Linked DNA regions of Homo sapiens. The protein of the gene in region 1 purifies or fractionates together with the protein of each later gene. This does not show direct contact. Each region holds a gene or a part of one and is shown in the gene's direction. Other genes may lie near its edges.

Region 1 (5,700 bases):
GGGCACACCTTATCTCAGGAGAGCAGAGCAAATCATGAGCATCGAGCTCTCTGATTCTTAGCTCAGGTCCACGTCACCTTCTTTGCTTACTGTCTTTTTGGATACAGGGTCCTCTGTCAGGGCATGGGCTGGGGTCTCAGGGTCACAGAGAGGGTCTGGTGACTTGAGTCTGGGGGCTAACAAGATGTCCTGCCCACAGGTGGTACAACTGAAGGCTGTGTTCCCACACGGTGGAGGCTTTGTGCTGGCCTTTGAGTTCATGCTGTCGGATCTGGCCGAGGTGGTGCGCCATGCCCAGAGGCCACTAGCCCAGGCACAGGTCAAGAGCTACCTGCAGATGCTGCTCAAGGGTGTCGCCTTCTGCCATGCCAACAACATTGTACATCGGGTCAGTCTCAGCATAGGCCGGGCATGGGGTCTGGGGAGCTGACTTGGCTTGGGGATGGGGCTAGCCCTTGTAAAAGGTGTGATAAGAAGTTGGGACAGAGCTGGTCAAGGCCTCCAGGTAAGTGGCCAGGGCATGGCCCTGGAGGAGGTGGGGACCGGGGCTGACCTGAGTGGTTAGACTGCCAAGCCCGCTTGTCCCAAGGTCCTATGGGGGATTTGGAGGGACTGATGCTTCTTTTGGTACTCCCAGGACCTGAAACCTGCCAACCTGCTCATCAGCGCCTCAGGCCAGCTCAAGATAGCGGACTTTGGCCTGGCTCGAGTCTTTTCCCCAGACGGCAGCCGCCTCTACACACACCAGGTGGCCACCAGGTAGGGAGGGCCAGATCCCTTCCAGTCTTCTCCATGGGGAAGAGATGCTTCTGGGCCTTTTCTCCAGACATTGCTTGTGGGGCTGGGGTCACCTCCCCAGGCATCCTTTTCTCAGCCCAGTGCCTGCCAGCCCTCTTCCTCGCAGGTGGTACCGAGCCCCCGAGCTCCTGTATGGTGCCCGCCAGTATGACCAGGGCGTCGATCTGTGGTGAGACCCCTGTGGGTGGTCAAAGGGTAACATGGCTCATGGATTTCTGCTAGGCTCTGAGGTCTCTGAGCTGTTTGGTGGTCTTTTCCCTGGTGGGAGTTTAGGCTTCCTTAAGGGTGTCTTCCCTGGTTGGGGTATTCTGAGCACTTTGGGGTTGGGGTTCCTCACTATGATGTTTTCGAGCTGGGTAGGGGCCAGGTGGGATGAGAATGGTGGTCCCAGGTGGGAAGCTTTCTGGGCTAGATGGGGAGGTGGTCTGAGCCGATATGTGCTGGAGTTAGATCCTAGGATATGGCATCTCTGAGCTGGTCAGAGGCCTGTGTCCTTGGACATGAAAGCTCTGAGCTTGTTTTGCAGCAAGAAGATAGTTGGCAGTGCCCATGGGTCTGAGATTTGGGGCAGGTTTGCAGGTCTGCCCCAGAAGTGTCCTAGAGCAGGAGTCTCCGAGAAGTCTTGGAACAGCTGGGGCTTTGCTCTGGGTTCTAGGGTTGAGGGCTTTGAGGGTTCAGGGACTGGGCCTCTGGACGTGAGGCTCCAGGGCTGGCTTGTGGGGCCTTGCCCTGGAGTGCAGTGTTAGAGCTGCTCTGTGGGTGGGTCTGTGGTCCATGGTGGGAGATCTCTGACCTGCTTGGGGCTCTGTGTCCACAGGTCTGTGGGCTGCATCATGGGGGAGCTGTTGAATGGGTCCCCCCTTTTCCCGGGCAAGAACGATATTGAACAGCTTTGCTATGTGCTTCGCATCTTGGGCACCCCAAACCCTCAAGTCTGGCCGGTTTGTAGGGGCCCTTGGTGAGGTGGGTGTGGGGCAGGTTTACTCCACTCCCAACAGCAAGTAACCACTCCCTCCCCTGAACCTTCTCTCTCCTGGCCCCAACCCCCCTTGATGGACAGGGACCACTGTCCTGGCCCAACTCAGGGCTTCCTCCTTCCTGCTGTCATTTGGGTTGGGGTAGATCCTGTCCTTTGTCCCTTTTCACCCCAGTACACACATGTGCAGTGTCTCAGCAAGCTGTGCACAGAGTCGTCATCTGAGAGGGCAAGGGGATGGATGAAGGAATACAGGGGTGGGTGAGTGAATGAATGATGGGTCAGGGAGACACATGGATGGGAGAGCACCCCCCATGTGAGTGTGTGTTAGGGGCTGAGAGTTGACAGCAGAGAGCATGGCAAGGGTCGGGAACTACTCTCATTGTACCCTGTTCCTTCTCCCTGGCCCAGGAGCTCACTGAGCTGCCGGACTACAACAAGATCTCCTTTAAGGAGCAGGTGCCCATGCCCCTGGAGGAGGTGCTGCCTGACGTCTCTCCCCAGGCATTGGATCTGCTGGGTCAATTCCTTCTCTACCCTCCTCACCAGCGCATCGCAGCTTCCAAGGTAGGGGGAGAGGCTGTAGTCTCTGCTCCTTCAGCTCCCCTCCCCATCACCCTGGTACTCTGTACTTGGTAGCCATGTGACCCCATCACATCAGCGACCCTCAGAACCTGTGATTGGCATGGACCAGCACCAGACATCTGGAACCCAGGGGACAGGGGCCTTGGAGCAGGTGTGCCTCTCATGAGTAGACCCCACTGGACATCCCCAGACTTCCCCTGAGGGTGGCCCATACGAGGGGCATGCCCAACTCTCAGGAGAGCGCGTGTCCGGGAGTGCAGGTTTCTGGGCTGCCCCTGACCCTGTGGCAGATACAGTAAGAGAGTCACTGGGGACTCATTCCTTTATTCCATTAGCAAGTATTTTCTGCACATCTGGCACATGCAGGGATTGTCCTGGGCCCTGCACAGATGGTAAACAATCAGTCCTACCTCCGCGGGGCACTCCTGGTGGTGAGGTAGCTCCAGGTCCAAAAGGTCACAAGAGGTCATGTTCTCCAGCTGTGGGAGCCCCAGGAGAGAGGCAAGGCCGACTTTGGGGTCAAGCAAAGCTTCCTGGTGGAGGGCAGGTTTAAGCATGAGATGTTTGAGGAGGTGTTCGCTGAAGAGAGAAATGGTGGGCAGAGGCCTGGAAGAGAGGACCCAGGAAGGCTGGTTATGGCTGGTAGGCCTGGGAGGACGATGACCACAGGAGCATGGGCTGACAGGTGTCAGGGTGTCTCTCAGGGGTCCCTGTCCCCTCCCTGCACTCAGCACCAGCCGCGTGTGTTTACATACGCCCTCTTGGTCTCCACTGTCAGCAGCTCCTGTGGGCTCTGTGTCCACAGTGTACCCAAGCCGTGTGACCCTTATCTCTTGGGTTGCCTCCCAGAATCTGGGTCTCCCCTCATCCCATTTAATCTCTTCTCCACCTGGCAGACAGAGTAACTTTATCCAAGTAGAACAGGACACATTCCTTCTCTGCCAGGGCCCTCCTGTGGCTCCATCTCAGAGGAAAAGCCAGGGTCCTTTTTGTGACCCACAGATGTCGTATGCTTGGGTGCCATCACCTCATGACGCTGCCTGCTGTTGTGCCCTGTGCTCACTCCTCTCCAGCCCCAGGGGTCAGTACACTTTTGTCCCTGGCCTGGAGCCTCATGTCCCACTTGCTTATGTCTCAAGTCTTGGCTTAAATGTCACTTCTCAGATGGCCTTCCCTCATGACTCTTCAGATCTGCAACCTCTCTCCAGGATTCCTCATTCCTCTGTCTTGCTTTCTCTCTTCCACTGCACTAATCATTATCTGACATACTGTGTATTTTACTTCATCTTGTTTATTACCCCCCACCCTCACTTATGTCAGAAAAACAGAGCTTTTGTCTGTTTTATTAACGGCTATGTTCCCAGCTTCTGGAATAGTGCTTCAGACATAGTAGACACTCAGAAAACACCCAGACACACTGAGTCAGCTGAATGCATAGATGAAGGAACATCTGCTTGAGGCTGGGGACAGGGAGGTGACTAGTTTCCTTCTGCTGTTCCTTACTTGCCACCCTCAGGCTCTCCTCCATCAGTACTTCTTCACAGCTCCCCTGCCTGCCCATCCATCTGAGCTGCCGATTCCTCAGCGTCTAGGGGGACCTGCCCCCAAGGCCCATCCAGGGCCCCCCCACATCCATGACTTCCACGTGGACCGGCCTCTTGAGGAGTCGCTGTTGAACCCAGAGCTGATTCGGCCCTTCATCCTGGAGGGGTGAGAAGTTGGCCCTGGTCCCGTCTGCCTGCTCCTCAGGACCACTCAGTCCACCTGTTCCTCTGCCACCTGCCTGGCTTCACCCTCCAAGGCCTCCCCATGGCCACAGTGGGCCCACACCACACCCTGCCCCTTAGCCCTTGCGAGGGTTGGTCTCGAGGCAGAGGTCATGTTCCCAGCCAAGAGTATGAGAACATCCAGTCGAGCAGAGGAGATTCATGGCCTGTGCTCGGTGAGCCTTACCTTCTGTGTGCTACTGACGTACCCATCAGGACAGTGAGCTCTGCTGCCAGTCAAGGCCTGCATATGCAGAATGACGATGCCTGCCTTGGTGCTGCTTCCCCGAGTGCTGCCTCCTGGTCAAGGAGAAGTGCAGAGAGTAAGGTGTCCTTATGTTGGAAACTCAAGTGGAAGGAAGATTTGGTTTGGTTTTATTCTCAGAGCCATTAAACACTAGTTCAGTATGTGAGATATAGATTCTAAAAACCTCAGGTGGCTCTGCCTTATGTCTGTTCCTCCTTCATTTCTCTCAAGGGAAATGGCTAAGGTGGCATTGTCTCATGGCTCTCGTTTTTGGGGTCATGGGGAGGGTAGCACCAGGCATAGCCACTTTTGCCCTGAGGGACTCCTGTGTACTTCACATCACTGAGCACTCATTTAGAAGTGAGGGAGACAGAAGTCTAGGCCCAGGGATGGCTCCAGTTGGGGATCCAGCAGGAGACCCTCTGCACATGAGGCTGGTTTACCAACATCTACTCCCTCAGGATGAGCGTGAGCCAGAAGCAGCTGTGTATTTAAGGAAACAAGCGTTCCTGGAATTAATTTATAAATTTAATAAATCCCAATATAATCCCAGCTAGTGCTTTTTCCTTATTATAATTTGATAAGGTGATTATAAAAGATACATGGAAGGAAGTGGAACCAGATGCAGAAGAGGAAATGATGGAAGGACTTACGGTATCAGATACCAATATTTAAAAGTTTGTATAATAATAAAGAGTATGATTGTGGTTCAAGGATAAAAACAGACTAGAGAAACTTATTCTTAGCCATCCTTTATTTTTATTTTATTTATTTTTTGATGGAGTCTTGCTCTGTTGCCCAGGCTGGAGTGCAGTGGCACAATCTCGGCTTACTGCAACCTCCGCCTCCTGGGTTCAAGTGATTCTCCTGCCTCAGCTTCCCGAGTAGCTGGGACTACAGGCGCGTGCCACCACACCTGGCTAATTTTTGTATTTTTACTCAAGACAGGGTTTCACCATGTTAGCCAGGATGGTCTTGATCTCCTGACCTCGTGATCTGCCTGCCCGGGCCTCTCAAAGTGCTGGGATTGTAGGCGTGAGCCACCATGCCCAGCCCCAGGCTCCCTTTATTTTTAAAATGTTTATTTTATGCTTCATGTGGATAAACTCTTCTGTGAGCACTCAGGGTGACTAACACTGCTACAGATGCTGGCCTTCAAGCACTTAGTGGAGAGAGAAAACATACTCAACCCTCGTTCTTGGCTTTCAGGAAAGTCTGATGTTTTCATGATATGGCCTCTGTTTATTTCTCCAGCCACATCTTCTGCAGACTGTAAGCTTCTAAGAGAACTTCAAAGAGAACTCTAAAATGTATATAACATTTGCAAG
Region 2 (7,455 bases), on another chromosome or scaffold:
GATGGGGACGTGCTCAGACACCCATACTGGTCAGCAGAGACCAGGCGTGAGTCAGTGTAAGGGCATTACAGGATGGAAGTGGAAGGAGTAGATGGACAGGTGGGTGAGTAGATGGCCACGGGTGTGGGCAGTGGATCAAACAATGCTGGGTAGAGTGGGTGGGTGGGTGTACAGGTAGGTAAATGGATGATGGGGTGGAAGGATGCATGGGTGTGTAGGCGGCTGGATGGGTGCATAAGTGGATGGATGGATGAATGGGGGATAGGCAATGGGTCAATGGAAGGGTGGGTAAGTAAGTGGTTGAGTGATTGGATGTATGTGAGTAGCAGATCAAGACATGGACAGGAAGTAGGTGGGTAAATGGGTGCATGGAAGGGAGGGCAGATGGATGGACAGGGGAGTGGGCAGTGGGTAGATGGATGAATTAGCGATCGCATCGACAGATGGATGGACCAGTGGACACTCAAGAGCTGGAGAACGGGAAAGACCAATCAGTGGTCAATGAGCAGATGCATTAACTGACCAAAAGCCCAGCCAGACTTTGGGGTACAAAGGGGACATGCACCCTAGGGAGGGGCTGATAGTTGTGGCCTCAGTTGAAGGCTCCCATCCCAAACCTCCCTGGAACCTGGAAGCAGCCACTGGCATTCCTGGGTCCCCAAGGAGGAAATACTTCTCCGTAGCTCTGCCCTGCCCCCTCCTCCCTGGCTCCATAGACTGCTCCCTGCCCAGGACCTGCCTCCTTCCCTTAGGCCCCTTGCCTTGGCCAACCCAATCTGCTGGGCTGAGTGGAGGGGGCAGCTGAGCCCTGGGACTATAGCCTGAGGAGCCTGGTTCCTTCAAGACAGGGAGGTAGGGGATCCTGAGCTCTGGGCGGTTGGTTCACCTAGCAGCTCCCCGTCCCCAGCTGGGAGGCATTTGTTCTGCATTCTGCACGATGATTACAGCCCTGCCAAGGTTAACCCCTGCACTCCTGGGCACAGCCTCTCAAAGGGAAGGAAGGGGACCGCAGGAAATTGGGGGAGGAGAAAAGCATGATAAAGGGAGACTGCCCAACCCTGGATCCTTCTTGGGGATATTGAAACTTCTCCCTTTCTCCCGTTTTCCAGAGGGAAAAACTGAGTCAGATCCTTAAATCAGGAGTGGAGCCAGGAACAAGGGCACAGCCTACATGGAGATAGGTTTCTATCTGGAGGCAGGCTGCAAAGGAGGGAGAGGGCTCCTCTCTGCCTCAGCTTACCCAGATGTAAAAGGGGGCAAGAATTCCTGATTCACAGGTTGCCTGTCAATGAGCTGGAGAAGACAAAGCGTGTGGCATATATAGTAGGGAGGTTCTCAACCTCTTGTTCTTTCCTGCCTGCCCTCCCTGCCCGCGGGTGAAGAAGATGGAGCAAGCATGGGGCAGGTTGTAACCACTTCCATCAGGACTGCTTGCTCAGTCATCTGCCTGGGGCTCACAACACCCCAACTAGTAAATACCCACACTGCTATTATACCCATTTCAGAGATGAGAAACTTGAGGCTCAAATGGGCCAAGTGCTTTGCCCACGGTCAGCCACTGGGCCAGGATTTGAGCTCAGGGCCTTTGACATTGCACCAGACTGCCTCCTTTACCAGCCGCTCTAGGGATCCTCTGACTAGAGTGACGTGTAATTGATTGTCTAACCAGGTCACCTTTGAGAATGAAAGGAAGTGCTATTAATAATTACACTGGAACAGTATGTGTAATCTGGGCTGTCCTAGGCAAACTGGAAAGTATGGCCATCCTGCCAAAGTAGGGAGCTTTACGCAAATCACTTCACTTATCTGCAAAAGGGACACCATGGCAGGACTTTCCCTATGGGGCTCTCACAAGAATTAAATGTCATAATGCATGTTAATGAGCTACAGGACCTGGTATGCATCAGGTGCTCAATAAGTGCTGGTTACTACTGATGCTATTAATAGTAATAACCACAGTAGCACTAGTTCTTTGTTTCCATCACTGTCCTTCCAGTCCATTCTTCACTCACAGTCAGATTTCTATTTTGTTTTTTGTTTTTTTGAGATGGGGTCTCGCTCTGTCGCCCAGGCTGGAGTGCAGTAGCACGATCTCAGCTCACTGTAACCTCCGTCTCCCAGATTCAAGCAATTCTCCTGCCTCTGCCTCCTGAATAGCTGGGATTACAGGCGCCCACCACTATGCCCGGCTAATTTTTGGTATTTTTAGTAGAGACAGGATTTCACCATGTTGGCCAAGCTGGTCACGAACTCCTGACCTCAAGTGATCTGCTCGCCTCGGCCTCCCAAAGTGCTGGGATTACAAGTGTGAGCCACCGCGCCCGGCACTTTTTTATTTTTATTTTTTAAGATGGAGTCTCGCTCTGTTGACCAGGCTGGAGTGCCGTGGTGCGATCTCAGCTCACTGCAACCTCCGCTTCCCAGGTTCAAGCAATTCTCCCTGCCTCAGCCTCCCGAGTAGCTGGGATTACAGGCACCCGCCACCACGCCTGGCTAATTTTTGTATTTTTAGTTGAGACGGAGTTTTACCATATTGGTCAGGCTGGTCTCAAACTCCCAGCCTCAAGTAATCTGCCCACCTCAGCCTCCCAAAGTGCTGGGATTACAGGCGTGAGCAACCACGCCGGGCAACAGTCAGTCTTCTAAATGTACACCTGCCAGTGCTGCCTGCTGGCTCACTGTCCTGATGCTGTTCCAGTTCTCCATGGGACAAAATACTCCTGGGCCGGCCCCCAGGGAAAGAGTTCCTACTGCTGTGCCACTTGAGCAAATGCTAGAATGCTTTGTGCCTCTGTTTCCTCATTTGTCCAGCTGCAGAAATAGCTCCTTCCCTTGGTGGCCAGCATGGGGATTCAGGGAGCCAGTGGAAGAGGCCTAGCCCCTGGGTGAACAGTAAAGACCTTGTCTCCTCCACCTGCGGGTAAATACAGCTCCTCATCCCCGGCCACAACAGCGCTCAGCCAGTCTCCTTCAGCCGGGTTTGCCTCCGCTGCAGGGTCCTCCACTCCCAGCCTTTGCTGTGCTGTCCCTTGCCAGCTGTGCACTGTGCATTTCCACTGCCCTTCCCTCTGCCTACACGTCCTTTAAGACTTAACTCACAACCATGCAGTGGCTCACACCCATAATCCTAGCACTTGAGGAGGCCAAGGCAGGCGGATCACCTGAGGTAAGGAGTTCAAGACCAGCCTGGCCAACATGGTGAAGCCCCCTCTCTACTAAAAAATACAAAAATTAGCCGGGCGTGGGTGGGTGCCTGTAATCCCAGCTAGTCCGGAGGCTTAGGAGGGAGAATCGCTTGAACCCGGGAGGTGGAAGCTGCAGTGAGCTGAGATCATGCCATGGCACTCCAGCCTGAGCAACAGAGAGAGACTCCGTCTCAAAAAAAAAAAAAAAAAAAAAAAAAAAAAAAAAAAAAAAAAAAAGAGAGAGAGAGAGACTTAACTCAGGTATCATCTCCTCTAGGAAGATTTCCTGAGCCCCCAGGCCCTGCAGGAAGTATTAGGGACCTCTCTGTGCCCTGACAGCCCGAGGACTCTATAGTCAGATGGGAGTAGTCAAAGGAGGGCACAACAACGGGAGGCAGGGGCCAGAGATCTATCTCCCCTCCTTGAGGATGGCACAGGGTCCCGGGTATGGCTGATTCCCTGCCCTCCATGGAGGTGGGCGGGGTGGGGGGAGGGTCTGTAAAGTCTCTGAGATGCGACTTCATTTACCTGCCGAGCAAGCCTCCTAGGTGCTCTTGGAGCAGGAAACACTTCACACAACATCTGATGCTGCTATTATCTATCCCACTTTCAGATCAGGAAACTGAGGCAGAGAAAGGTAAGTAGTGACTGAGGCAGGACAGGAGCCCAGGCTGTCCGGCTCCAGGGTCCCGGTCTTGACGGCCACTCTACCCCACTCTACCAGTCGCCCCAGTATGGCTGTCTTCCTCCTGGGCACCGCGGGGCCTGTACCGGATGGAAGGGAATGAGAATGGGGAGCAAAGGAGTGGGCATGTCATGCCTGTAAACATCAAGGTTTAAAGGCCCAGGCATTCAAGGCCTCAGATCGAGCTTCCCGGTTCCCCGAACTCCCGCAGGGCGCGGCTGGAGGGCCCAGGAGGGAGGAGAGTTCATCAGGCCTGGACGCCCCAAGCAAGGCCACGAGGGGAACCGGTGGAAGAGGGGTTGGCGGCCGGGGACCGGAGTCGCCTCCCCGGGGCAGCCCGCACGTTCCCCGGCTGGCCTTGTCCGGGGTGGCGAGCAGAGGCCTGGCCTGGCCCCCCAGCCGCGTCCCTGCCAGCTCTCGGCGGCCGCGAGGACGGTGCCGGGGAGGGGGCCGGGGAGGGGGCCGGGCCCCGCCCGCGGGCGGGAGGAGACGGGCGGGAGGCGGGAGCGCCCACACCCCGCCCCCGCCCCCGGATCCAGCCCGCGGAGCCCGCGGCCAGGGCGGCGCAGACCGGCCCAGCGACTCTCCCGGGCTGCCAGCCGGGACGCGCGGCCGCCGCCGCTGCAGACGACGAGTCCGCCCTCGTCCCGCGCCCCCGGGGCTCGCGGAGCCAGGTAACAGCCCGGGCGCGCGGGTCCTCGGGGCGGAGGCCGTGGAGGCCGGCGGGTCCCGGCGCCCGCGGGGACTCTGCACCCTACTAGGCTCCCGGGGCCGGAACGGGGACGGGACCCGCCCGGGAGAGGCGCCCCCGGGTGCCCACAGGAAGGCCGGGCGCGGCCGCGGAGCCGCGCGAGGAAACTCCGAGCTTTCGGGCTTCGTGTCCCGTTCCAGGCTGGTGGAGGGGGCAGAGGATCGGACACGGCTGAGCGGCCAAAATGCGCGAGGAGGGGGCGAGCCGAGGGGCAGAGCGGGGGCTGTCTCCGCGCCTTCCTGCGCGGGGGAAGGAAGGGCCGGGGCGGGCAGCGGGCGACGCGGCGGAATGTCTCCCCTCCGCCGAGGCCCACGCGGAGAGCGGGAAGTGGGGGGTGGGGGGCCCGGGGAGATGGACAGGCACCCTGCCCCCCTCCCCGACCGCCGCATTCCAGGCTGGAGCCGCGGATGAGGTCATCCCGTCCGGTTCCCCTCCGGCCAAGACAGCCGGTCGTCCCCTTCCCCCGCGGAGCGACCCTCCGCGTCCTGAGCCCCGTCCCCCCAGGGAATGTTGGATGGCCGAAGTCTTTCCCGGACTTCCAATCCCGGCCGCCCTCCAGATTGTTCTGCCTTTGCCCCAGCAGTGCCAGACCCGCAACATTCGAAGCCCTTTTCCTAGACCGGGAAACTGAGGCTTAGAGAGTAGGGGGGACTGGCCGGGAGGCCGCAGCGGCACTAAACGTGGCGCGGGGACCCGAGACGCGGCCCGCAGCCGCTCCGTCTCGCTCGGTCCCGGGCTGGTTCGGCTCTAACTCGGGGCGGTGGGCACGAAGCGCGTCTCCTTTCCACTTTCCCCGTCGCTCCCTAATGGCCCACGGTGCCCCCCTTGGAATACGGAGGACCGGGTCCCCTAGCGCGACTGCGAACAACTAGCTACCCCGTTCTGGCCTCAGTTTCCCCGTCTCTCCACCTTGAAGCGTCTGGACTTTGAGGAGCAGGAGAAGTCAGCCGACCGGTTTAACCCCTTATTCCAGGGACCAGAGCAGGTTTGGGGGAGCTGCCGTAACCATGACAGGGACCCGCTGTCCAGCGGTGGGGGGGGGCGTCACCCAGCTGGATGCCCGCAGGAAGTGGGCTGTGTGCACCCGAGCAGTGGCCTCCAGGATGAGACGTGGGCCCCTGGCCAGCACTGCGGCCTGCGGGTGACCCCCAGGTGAATGCCAGGGTGCAGCCGCCCCCGCTCTCCTTCAGACCCGCCCTTGGCCTCCCCGCGACCACATGTGCCTCCACAGCGACCCCTGTTGGCCCGATCCCGGCTCCAAAACTTGTTCTTGCGTCATTCCCACCATTGAGTGAGCTCAGGCCATGTGCCCAGGCCCTGACTATCCTCTATAGGGTAAATATAAGGACTCCAAGGACACTGAGGCTGTGTGGTGACCTCCTTGCCCAGGTCACAGGCAGTGAATCTGCAGAGCTGGGTCTCCTGTCTTCCCAGGCCTGCACCTGCACCCCACACCGGGCTCAGCACTGGGCATCCAAGCCCTCCAAATCGTCTTCCCCATTCCCCATCGTCTTCACCCCCACCCTGGGGCATTTACCAGCAATGTTGGTCTGTGACTGAGGGTAAATGTCTCCTTTCTGAGCTTCGTTTTTTCCATCTGTGAAAGGGGTGTTCTGAACACTAACGGGCGGTGTTCCTGAGCAGGTGAGGGGAGGTGAGCCTGGCACCAGGACACTTGGAGCCCTGCTTACTCCAGTGCCAGGTGAGGCACACCTGATGGCCAGCAGTGCCCTGTGGTTGGCAGCAAGTGCCACGTGGCTGCCACCGGGGTCCCTGGAATGAGAGATGTTAGTGTAAAGGTGTCAGATTTGAACCCATGGCTGCCCTGCTCCAGTATCTGAGGGTTTCATTACATTTTCTACCCTTGCAACTCCCCTGGGAGGGGAACTGCCTGGTGTGCTGTTCCGTTTTCCACATGGGAAGACCGGGTCCCAATACCCTGCCCTCAGCTCCACAGCGCTGCAGAGTCTCTCGACCGCAGTAGGCAGGGTAGTGTGAGGGGTGGGTACTATTGGGGGGGTGCCCAGAAACATTTGAAAGATGGGATCATCGCAAGATTGGGGAGGAAGCTGGTCCCCCAAGTCAAAAGTGACCATGGGGGTTCAGGGGGGAGGAGCCCCTTTTGCTGGGAGATGAGGTGCTGCCTCAAGAAGTCAGGGAGGCCAGGTGTGGTGGTTCACACTTGTAATCCCAGCACTTTGGGAGGCTGAGGCAGCAGGATGGCTTGAGTTCAGGAATTTGAGACCAACCTGGGCAATGGAGTGAGACCCTGTCCTTACAAAAAGTGGAAAAACTTAGCTGAGCATGGTGGTATGTGCCTGTAGTCCCAGCTACTCAGGAGGCTGAGGTGGGAGGATCGCTTGAGCCTGGGAGTTCGAGGCTGCAGTTAGCTGTGATGGAGCCACTGCACTCAGCCTGGGTGACAGAGTGAGACCCTGCCTCAAAAAAGAAAAAAAAAAAAGTCAGGGAGCTGGGGTGGGAGCAAGTGGGTAAGGCCACATGGCAGACCCTTCTACAGGACATTGTACAGAGGAACACCCTTCCCGCTCCCATTCCTTCCCCCAGAGATGCATCCTTAATCCCTGCTGAGCAGGGAAACTTGGCCCTGCCATGAACCTGTCACTTAACCTTGGACAGGTCTCCCTTCCCTCCGAACCTCAGTGCTGCCTGTCAAATAGGCCACGCTGCGGCTTTGCAGGGTTGTTGGAGAATCAGATGACATCATGTAATGGTTGGCCAACTGTGGATCGCTTCAGAACTTCAGCAAACATTCCACGAGGACTTCTCGGTGCCGGGGGTGCCAGGGAGGGAAGAAGATGATTCAGAAGTTCCCC
Region 3 (7,339 bases), on another chromosome or scaffold:
GTGAGGCAGGAGAATCACTTGAACCCAAGGGGCAGAGGCTGCAGTGATCTGAGATCTTGCCACTGCACTCCAGCCTAGGCGACAGATTGAGACTCCATCTCAAAAAAAAAAAGGTTCAGTTCACCAGGAAACACAATTGCAACTCTACATGCAGCCAATGATATGGCCTCCAAGTAGAGCAGTCTTGTTTTTTTGTTTTTGTTTTGTTTTGTTTTGTTTTTGAGATCGAGGTCAAGAGTTTGAGACCAGCCTGACCAATACAGTGAAACCCCGTCTCCACGAGAAATGCAAAAATTAGCCAGGCTTGGTGGCTGGTGCCTGTAGTCCCAGCTACTCCAGAGGCTGAGACAGGAGAATTGCTTGAACTTGGGAGGCAGAGGTGGCAGTGAGCCGAGATCGTGCCACTGCACTCCGGCCTGGGCGACAGAGCGAGATTCTGTCCCAAAAAAAAAAAAAAGGGAAAAGCAAATATAAGTAAAATGTTTGCCTGCAAATATCTGTTCAATGAGTGCCAGCCATTATTATTATTGTTGGTGGTGTTATTTTATAGTTTATTTTAGTAGCTTATTAATTTATAATAATAATTATTACTATTATTTTAGAAACAGCGTCTTGCCTTGTTGCTCAGGCTGCAGTGCAGAACTTTGATCATAACTCACTGTAGCCTCGACCTCCTGGGTTCAAGGGATCCCTCCCACCTCAGCCTCCCATTTAGCTGGGACTACATTTTTAAATTTTCTGTAGAGGCCAGGTGTGACGGCTCATGCCTGTAATCCCAGCACTTTGGGAGGCCAAGGCAGGTGGATCACAAGGTCAGAAGTTCAAGACCAGCCTGGCCAACATAGCGGAACCCCCCCATCTCTACTAAAAATACAAAAAATTAGGCAGGCATGGTGGCAGGCGCCTGTAATCCCAGCTACTAGGAAGGCTGAGGCAGGAGAATTGCTTCAACCTGGGAGGCAGAGGTTGCAGTGAGCCGAGATCACACCATTGCACTCCAGCCTCACTAGACTCTGTCTCAAAAAAAAAATTAGTCATGTGTCATGGCAGGCGCCTGTAATCCCAGCTACTTAGGAGGCTGAGGCAGGAGAATCGCTTGAACCTGGGAGTCAGAGGTTGCAGTGAGCCCAGATCGTTCCACTGCACTCTACGTGGGAGACAGAGGGAGACTGTGTCTCCAAATTAATTAATTAATATTCTGTAGAGGCAGGCTCTCACTACGTTACCCAGGCTTAGGTTGCCCAGGCTGGAGTACGGTGACGTGATCTTGGCTCGCTGCAACATCTGCCTCCCGGGTTCAAGCGATTCTCCTGCCTCAACCTCCCAAGTAGCTGGGATTACAGGCATGTGCCACCGCACCCGGCTAATTTCTGTATTTTTCGCAGAGACAGGTTTCACCATGTTGGCCAGGCTGGTCTCGAACTCTTGACTTCAGGTGAACCATCTGCCTCAGCCTCCCAAAGGCTGTTTTTGAGACTGGGTCTTGCTCACTGCAACTTCCACCCCTGGGGTTCAAGCAGTCCTCATGCCTCAGCCACCCCAGTATCTGAGATTACAGGCATGCACCACCATACCCGGCTAATTTTTGTATTTTTAGTAGAGACGGGGTTTCACCATGTTGGCCAGGCTGGTCTAGATTTCCTGACCTCAGGTGATCCACCCACCTCGGCCTCCCAAAGTGCTGGGATTACTGGCATAAGCCACCGCACCCAGCCCTCCAGGTGATTTCTTACATAGCTCTGCTATGCTACCACCTTTAACCTCCCTTCCTTCCTCAGTGATTTCCGTGAGACCCCACCACTACCTTTTGTGGCAGGCACTGTGCAAGCCTCAGAGCTATAACAATGAGAAAGAACAAAGCCTTCCCAGACTTTGGGGCTCTGCCAGTGTAGAGGGCAAGGCAGAGGTAAATCAAAGCAGTGGCTCACGCCTATAATCCCAACAGTTTGGGAGGCCAAAGTGGGAGGATTGCTTGAGCCCAGGAGTTCGAGACCAGCCTGGGCAACATGGGGAAACCCCATCTCTACAAAAAATATAAACATTGGGCCGGGCGCGATGGCTCACGCCTGTAATTTCAGCACTTTGGGAGGCCGAGGTGGGCAGATCACAAGGTCAGGAGATCGAGACTATCCTGGCTAACACGATGAAACGCTGACTCTACTAAAAATACAAAAAATTAGTCGGGCATGGTGGCAGGCGCCTGTAGTCCCAGCTACTTGGGAGGCTGAGGCAGGAGAATGGTGTGAACCTGGGAGGCGGAGCTTGCAGTGAGCCGAGATTGCGCCACTGCACTCTAGCCTGGGCTACACAGCGAGACTCTGTCTCAAAAAAAAAAAAAAAAATTAGCTGGACATGATGGTGCACCTGTGGGCCCAGCTACTCAGGAGGCTGAGGCAGGAGGATTGCGTGAGCCCAGGAGATAGACATGGTTGCAGTGATCTGAGATCGTGCCACTGCACTCCAGCCTGGGTTTCAAAGTAAGACCCTATCTCAAAAAAAAAAAGGCAGAGATATAAGTAAACTAGTTTGGGAAGCCGAGGCAGGCAGATCATGAGGTCAGGAGTTCCAGACCATCCTGGCCAACATGGTGAAACCCTGTCTCTACTAAAAATATACAAATTAGCTGGGCATGGTGGCGGGTGCCTGTAGTCCCAGCTACTCAGGAGGCTGAAGCAGGAGAATCGTTGGAACTTAGGAGGTGGATGTTGCAGTGAGCCGAGATCGCGCCACTGCACTCCAGCCTGGCGACAGAGAGAGACTCTGTCTCAAAAAAAAAAGAGAAAGAAAAAAAAAAAAAAGGCCAGGCACGATGGCTCATGCCTGTAATCTTTGGTACATCGAGGTGGGCGGATCACGTGAGGTCGGGAGTTTGAGACCAGCCTGACCAACATGAAGAAATCCCGTGTCTACTAAAAATACAAAGTTAGCCAGGCATGGTGGTGCATGCCTCTACTCCCAGCTACTTGGAAGGCTGAGGCAGGAGAATCGCTTGAACCTGGGAGGCAGCGGTTGCGGTGAGCTGAGATTGCGCCATTGCACTCCAGCTTGGGCAACAAGAGTGAAACTTCTTCTCAAAAAACAAAAACAAACAAACAAACAAAAAACCCAAGTAAACTAGTTATGAAGTGGACGTTCATCAACTTCATTGTGCCAAGACAGCTAAAGGGGGCACCTGGTCTTGCCTTGGGGAGGTTGGGAGGGCTTCCTGTAGGAGGTAACCTGGGAACTCCAACCTTAGAAGTGATCTCCAAAAAGCCAGTTACCACCTCCATGATAGCTACCTCCAAAAGCTGGTGTCTGACTCATCCATCCATCCATCCATCCATCCATCCATCCATCCATCCACCTACCCATTTATTGAGCTTCTATAGATGCCAGGCATGGTTCAAGGAGGTGCTGGGTACAAATCAGGTAAAAATCTCTGCCAGGATGAAGCAGAGTGAGGGATGGTCCCTCCAACCACAAGCAAAATAATGACAAGATAATTCTGGAAGGAGTAACTGCTAGGAAGGAAATAAAACTGAGTGAAGGAGGGAGAAGTGTCCCGGTTTCAAAACAAGATCCACAAAAACTTAGCTAATCAAGGATGCCACCTTCTTCCCGAGCCATGGGGACCTTATCACCCTCCAGCAGACAGTGCATAGAGGAGGAACTCCTCCCAGTGGCCCTGCTGGCTCAGTCGCCTGCGCAGCAGTAATCGAGCGCCTCCAGTATGCACCAGGCAACCTTCTAGACATTAAACTGTGTGGGGGATGGGAGGGAGGTTTCTGTATGCCTTTGGGCACGTCACTCCTCCTCAGGCCCTCAGGTTCACTTCTGTAACTAAGGCTTCAGGATGGGTCATTCAGCAACCCCAGAGCTGCCCTGCCCGTCAAGCTTGAACTCTTTAAGGAAATAACATTTAGAGTGGACTGTGCCCCCAGCAGCCCCCAAGGTGAGAGTGCATAGATGGGGGTGTTTATCCCCATTTCGCAGATGGTCAGGATGAAGCTCAGAGGAGAGGCAGGAGTCGCACAGGCTGCGCGATACTGACCCGTGTTGGGGTCCAGCCCAGGGTCCCCCGCCCCCGCCCCAGCCCCCGCCCCAGCCCCCGCCCCAGCCCCCGCCCCAGCCCCAGCAGCCGGGAGGCTTCGGTCCCTTTAAGAACGCCCCGCGGGGCCAAGCAGGAAGGGGGAGGTGCCAACGCCCGGGACGGACGTCTGCATGAGCCAACGGGTGCGGCAGTCGCGGCAGCGGCGGCCAATGGGCACGGCAGGGGCGGGGCCAAGCGGCCGAACCTGGTTCCCGAGGCGCGGCGGCCGCGGCTGGGGGCGGGGAGGGGGGCGCAGGACCCCAAGTGGGGGTCCCGGAGCCAGAGGCAAGTGTCCTGGGGTGCTGGGGGCGCCGTGCCGGCCGGGCCGCTGCCCTGGCCTAGGCTGGTCCGGGGGCTAGCGCGCCGGGGGCTGCGGCCGATGGGCGGGGCGAGGGGCCGCGGGGGTGGCGAGCCGGGGGGGCACGGGGGTCGGGGGTGCCCGAGGGGGCGCGGCCGGGCGGGGGTGGCCAGGGATGGGGGTCACTGGGGGCAAAGGGGATCCAGTGGGGGGGTCCCGATGGAGGCGTGCAGGGCCAGGGGCGCCCGAGGCGTGCGGGGGTCGGGTGCCCCAGACTGGTGGCGTCAGACAGGCGTGGGTCGTTGGGGGCCTGGGTCGCGGCTTGACTGAGGGCCCGGCCGGGGCTGTGGGGCGTCAGGAGAGCGTGGGGTGTTATGGGATCGGAAAGGGGGGGGCGTCTGGGGACACTGGAGTGTTTACGGCGAGACGGAGCGGCTGTGGGGGGAGCTGGCCCGTGCTGGGGGCGGTGGTGGTTGGGGTGGGGGGTGGGAGGGGAGGCCGAATTGTGCGGGCGCGGGGAATTATGGGGGTGGGGGCTGGGAGGGTCTCTCAAAGTGGGGCTCCGAGCCCGGGAGGAGCAGGCAGGTGAGGGTTAGGGAGGGGATGCGGCGGGCTGGTTTGATGGCTGTGCCACACTCTTCTGAGCTTGGGGCCTGGGGGACGGAGGGGTTGGTTATTGGTTCAGGAGGTCTGGGGCAAGGAAGAGGCTGTAGAATGTGGTGGGACCTCGACCACTCCTGGAAAGGAGGCTGCTTTGAGGGGGTGGGACCGAGGCCTGATGAGAGGAGGATGGTCTCCTGGGGAAGGATTTGGGCCAGGGTCCCTGATGTTGGGGTTGTGGGGGATAGTGTTAGATTCAGAGTGTGGAAGGAAAAAACGCTTGGGGTTTCTGGGTGATTACAGTTGGTGCTTTTGGGGAGGGTCTCCCCTTTGGAGAAGAGGCTGGAGGTGGGAGGCCCTGGTAAAAGATTCAATTTCCCCCAGTGGCCTTAGAGGCTCTAAAAATGGCTTCCCTAAGGCCTCGGAGGCTGTCCTCTCCACAAAAATCCCAGCACCCTTCGCTCAGCTTATAATCAGGCAAAGCCACAGGGCCTGAAGCCCCAGGTTCAAATCCTCCTTTGGCCTTTGGCTTTCTCTGTGACCTTGGGCAAATGCCTTTGCCCCTCTGGCCTGTTTCCTGTTCTGCAAAATGTTGAGGGGAATCTTCCCTACTTCCTGGAGTATTTGTAAACATTAAATAATAATTAGCTCTAATAATGGCTAACACTATTTGAGCCTGATGCCAAGGGCTTGATGCATGGGTTAATTTCTCCCAACAAGCTGGGGTTGTTGTTACACCCACTGTATAGATGAGGAAACTGAGGCCTGGAGCCCTTGAGTTACACAGAAAGTGATCGGCAGTGTGGGGAATCAGTACAGTGGAGACTTTGAGGGGCTGTGTAGGATTCTGACCCACATCTCTGCCCCCCACTTCCAGGGCCAATTCCTGTCCCCCCAGCAGCATGGCATCGTGTGCTGAACCCTCTGAGCCCTCTGCCCCACTGCCCGCCGGGGTCCCACCGCTCGAGGACTTCGAGGTACTGGATGGGGTTGAGGATGCAGAGGGTGAGGAGGAAGAGGAGGAGGAAGAGGAGGAAGAGGATGACCTGAGTGAGCTGCCACCGCTGGAGGACATGGGACAACCCCCGGCGGAGGAGGCTGAGCAGCCTGGGGCCCTGGCCCGAGAGTTCCTTGCTGCCATGGAGCCCGAGCCCGCCCCAGCCCCGGCCCCAGAAGAGTGGCTGGACATTCTGGGTAAGGAGCAAAGGTGGATCAGGGTGCCCTTGGCCCTGGCCCTCTCGTCCCCTGAGCCTCATTTCCCCATCTGTGCTGTGAGGGTTGGAAGTCACGTGGTCACCACCGTGATCACCAGCCAGAGGCAACTACTGGAGATGCTTCACATTGATGTACTCTATCCACTGACTCACACACATGCACAATGTGCTGTGTCCCCGTTTCCCAGATCTGCTAACAGTGGCTCAGAGAGGCTGAGTCACCTGCCCAGAGCCACACAGCCAGCACGCCAGGCGCTGGCAGCTCCTAACCCCATCAATGCATCTTTTTTTGGCATTTGTCTGACACATGCTTGGGCTCTGAAAAATGTGTCCTGAGTGCACGCCAGCCTGGGCAACACAGCGAGACCCCAACTTCCAAAACAAAAAATGTGTTCTGGGGTCAAGTGGATCAGAGGAATGTTATTTTGTTCAGCCTTCTGGTTGGTTCACAGTAGTGATAGTATTGTAAATGCTCAGAGCAATCCTACAAGAAGAAAACTACATGAGCCCCCACATGTTCCCCCCAACATACCCCATCACAGCAACTGAAAACAAGAGAAATGTTAGTTTTCTGTGGAAGACGTCTTGCTACTAGTATAGTACTGATATCTAATATACCAAATAATGCTGGTGCCCATGCAAATAATAAGATATCATTACCACTATCAATTGTAATAACAATACTGTAGCAATAGTTTCCAATCATATTGACACTGATGGAACAGAAATATTACTAAATATCACCACCACTACTGATAAAAATCTTACTACTTTTTTTTTTTTTTTTGAGACAGAGTCTGACTCTGTCACCCAGGTTGGAATGCAGTGGTGCGATCTCAGTTCACTGCAACCTCCGCCTCCCAGGTTCAAGCGATTCTTCTGCCTCAGCCTCCTGAGTAGCTGGGACTACAGGTGCCCACCTCTATGCCTGGCTGATTTTTGTATTTTTAGTAGAGACAGGGTTTCACCACATTGGCCAGGCTGGTCTCGAACTCCTGACCTCAGGTGATCCACCTGCCTTGGCCTCCTAAAGTGCTGAGATTACAGGTGTGAGCCAGCACACCTGGCCCCTAATTTTTGTATTTTTAGTGGAGACAGGGTCTCACCATGTTGACCAGGCTGGTCTCAAACTCCTAACCTCAAGTGATCCTCCTG

Evidence for each region.
Region 2: the proteins of CDK20 (region 1) and CDC42EP1 purify together in Homo sapiens (affinity purification with mass spectrometry; 2 studies listed by BioGRID and IntAct, with this or other methods). This does not show direct contact.
Region 3: the proteins of CDK20 (region 1) and FKBP8 purify together in Homo sapiens (affinity purification with mass spectrometry; 5 studies listed by BioGRID and IntAct, with this or other methods). This does not show direct contact.

The regions. Positions count from the first base shown.
Region 1 is NC_000009.12:87,965,835-87,971,534, reverse strand, and holds the end of CDK20 (cyclin-dependent kinase 20), read left to right. Parts: intron 1-199; coding exon 200-388; intron 389-637; coding exon 638-759; intron 760-889; coding exon of another isoform or gene 890-904; coding exon 905-967; intron 968-1,615; coding exon 1,616-1,739; coding exon of another isoform or gene 1,740-1,760; exon of another isoform or gene 1,761-1,761; intron 1,762-2,185; coding exon 2,186-2,341; intron 2,342-2,667; exon of another isoform or gene 2,668-2,965; intron 2,966-3,361; coding exon of another isoform or gene 3,362-3,440; intron 3,441-3,862; exon of another isoform or gene 3,863-3,875; coding exon 3,876-4,073; 3' UTR 4,074-5,094; downstream 5,095-5,700. UniProt on the Homo sapiens protein: Required for high-level Shh responses in the developing neural tube.
Region 2 is NC_000022.11:37,556,045-37,563,499, forward strand, and holds the start of CDC42EP1 (cdc42 effector protein 1), read left to right. Parts: upstream 1-4,435; 5' UTR 4,436-4,544; intron 4,545-7,455. UniProt on the Homo sapiens protein: Probably involved in the organization of the actin cytoskeleton. Induced membrane extensions in fibroblasts.
Region 3 is NC_000019.10:18,540,504-18,547,842, reverse strand, and holds the start of FKBP8 (peptidyl-prolyl cis-trans isomerase FKBP8), read left to right. Parts: upstream 1-4,269; 5' UTR 4,270-4,357; intron 4,358-5,847; 5' UTR 5,848-5,872; coding exon 5,873-6,164; intron 6,165-7,339. UniProt on the Homo sapiens protein: Constitutively inactive PPiase, which becomes active when bound to calmodulin and calcium. Seems to act as a chaperone for BCL2, targets it to the mitochondria and modulates its phosphorylation state.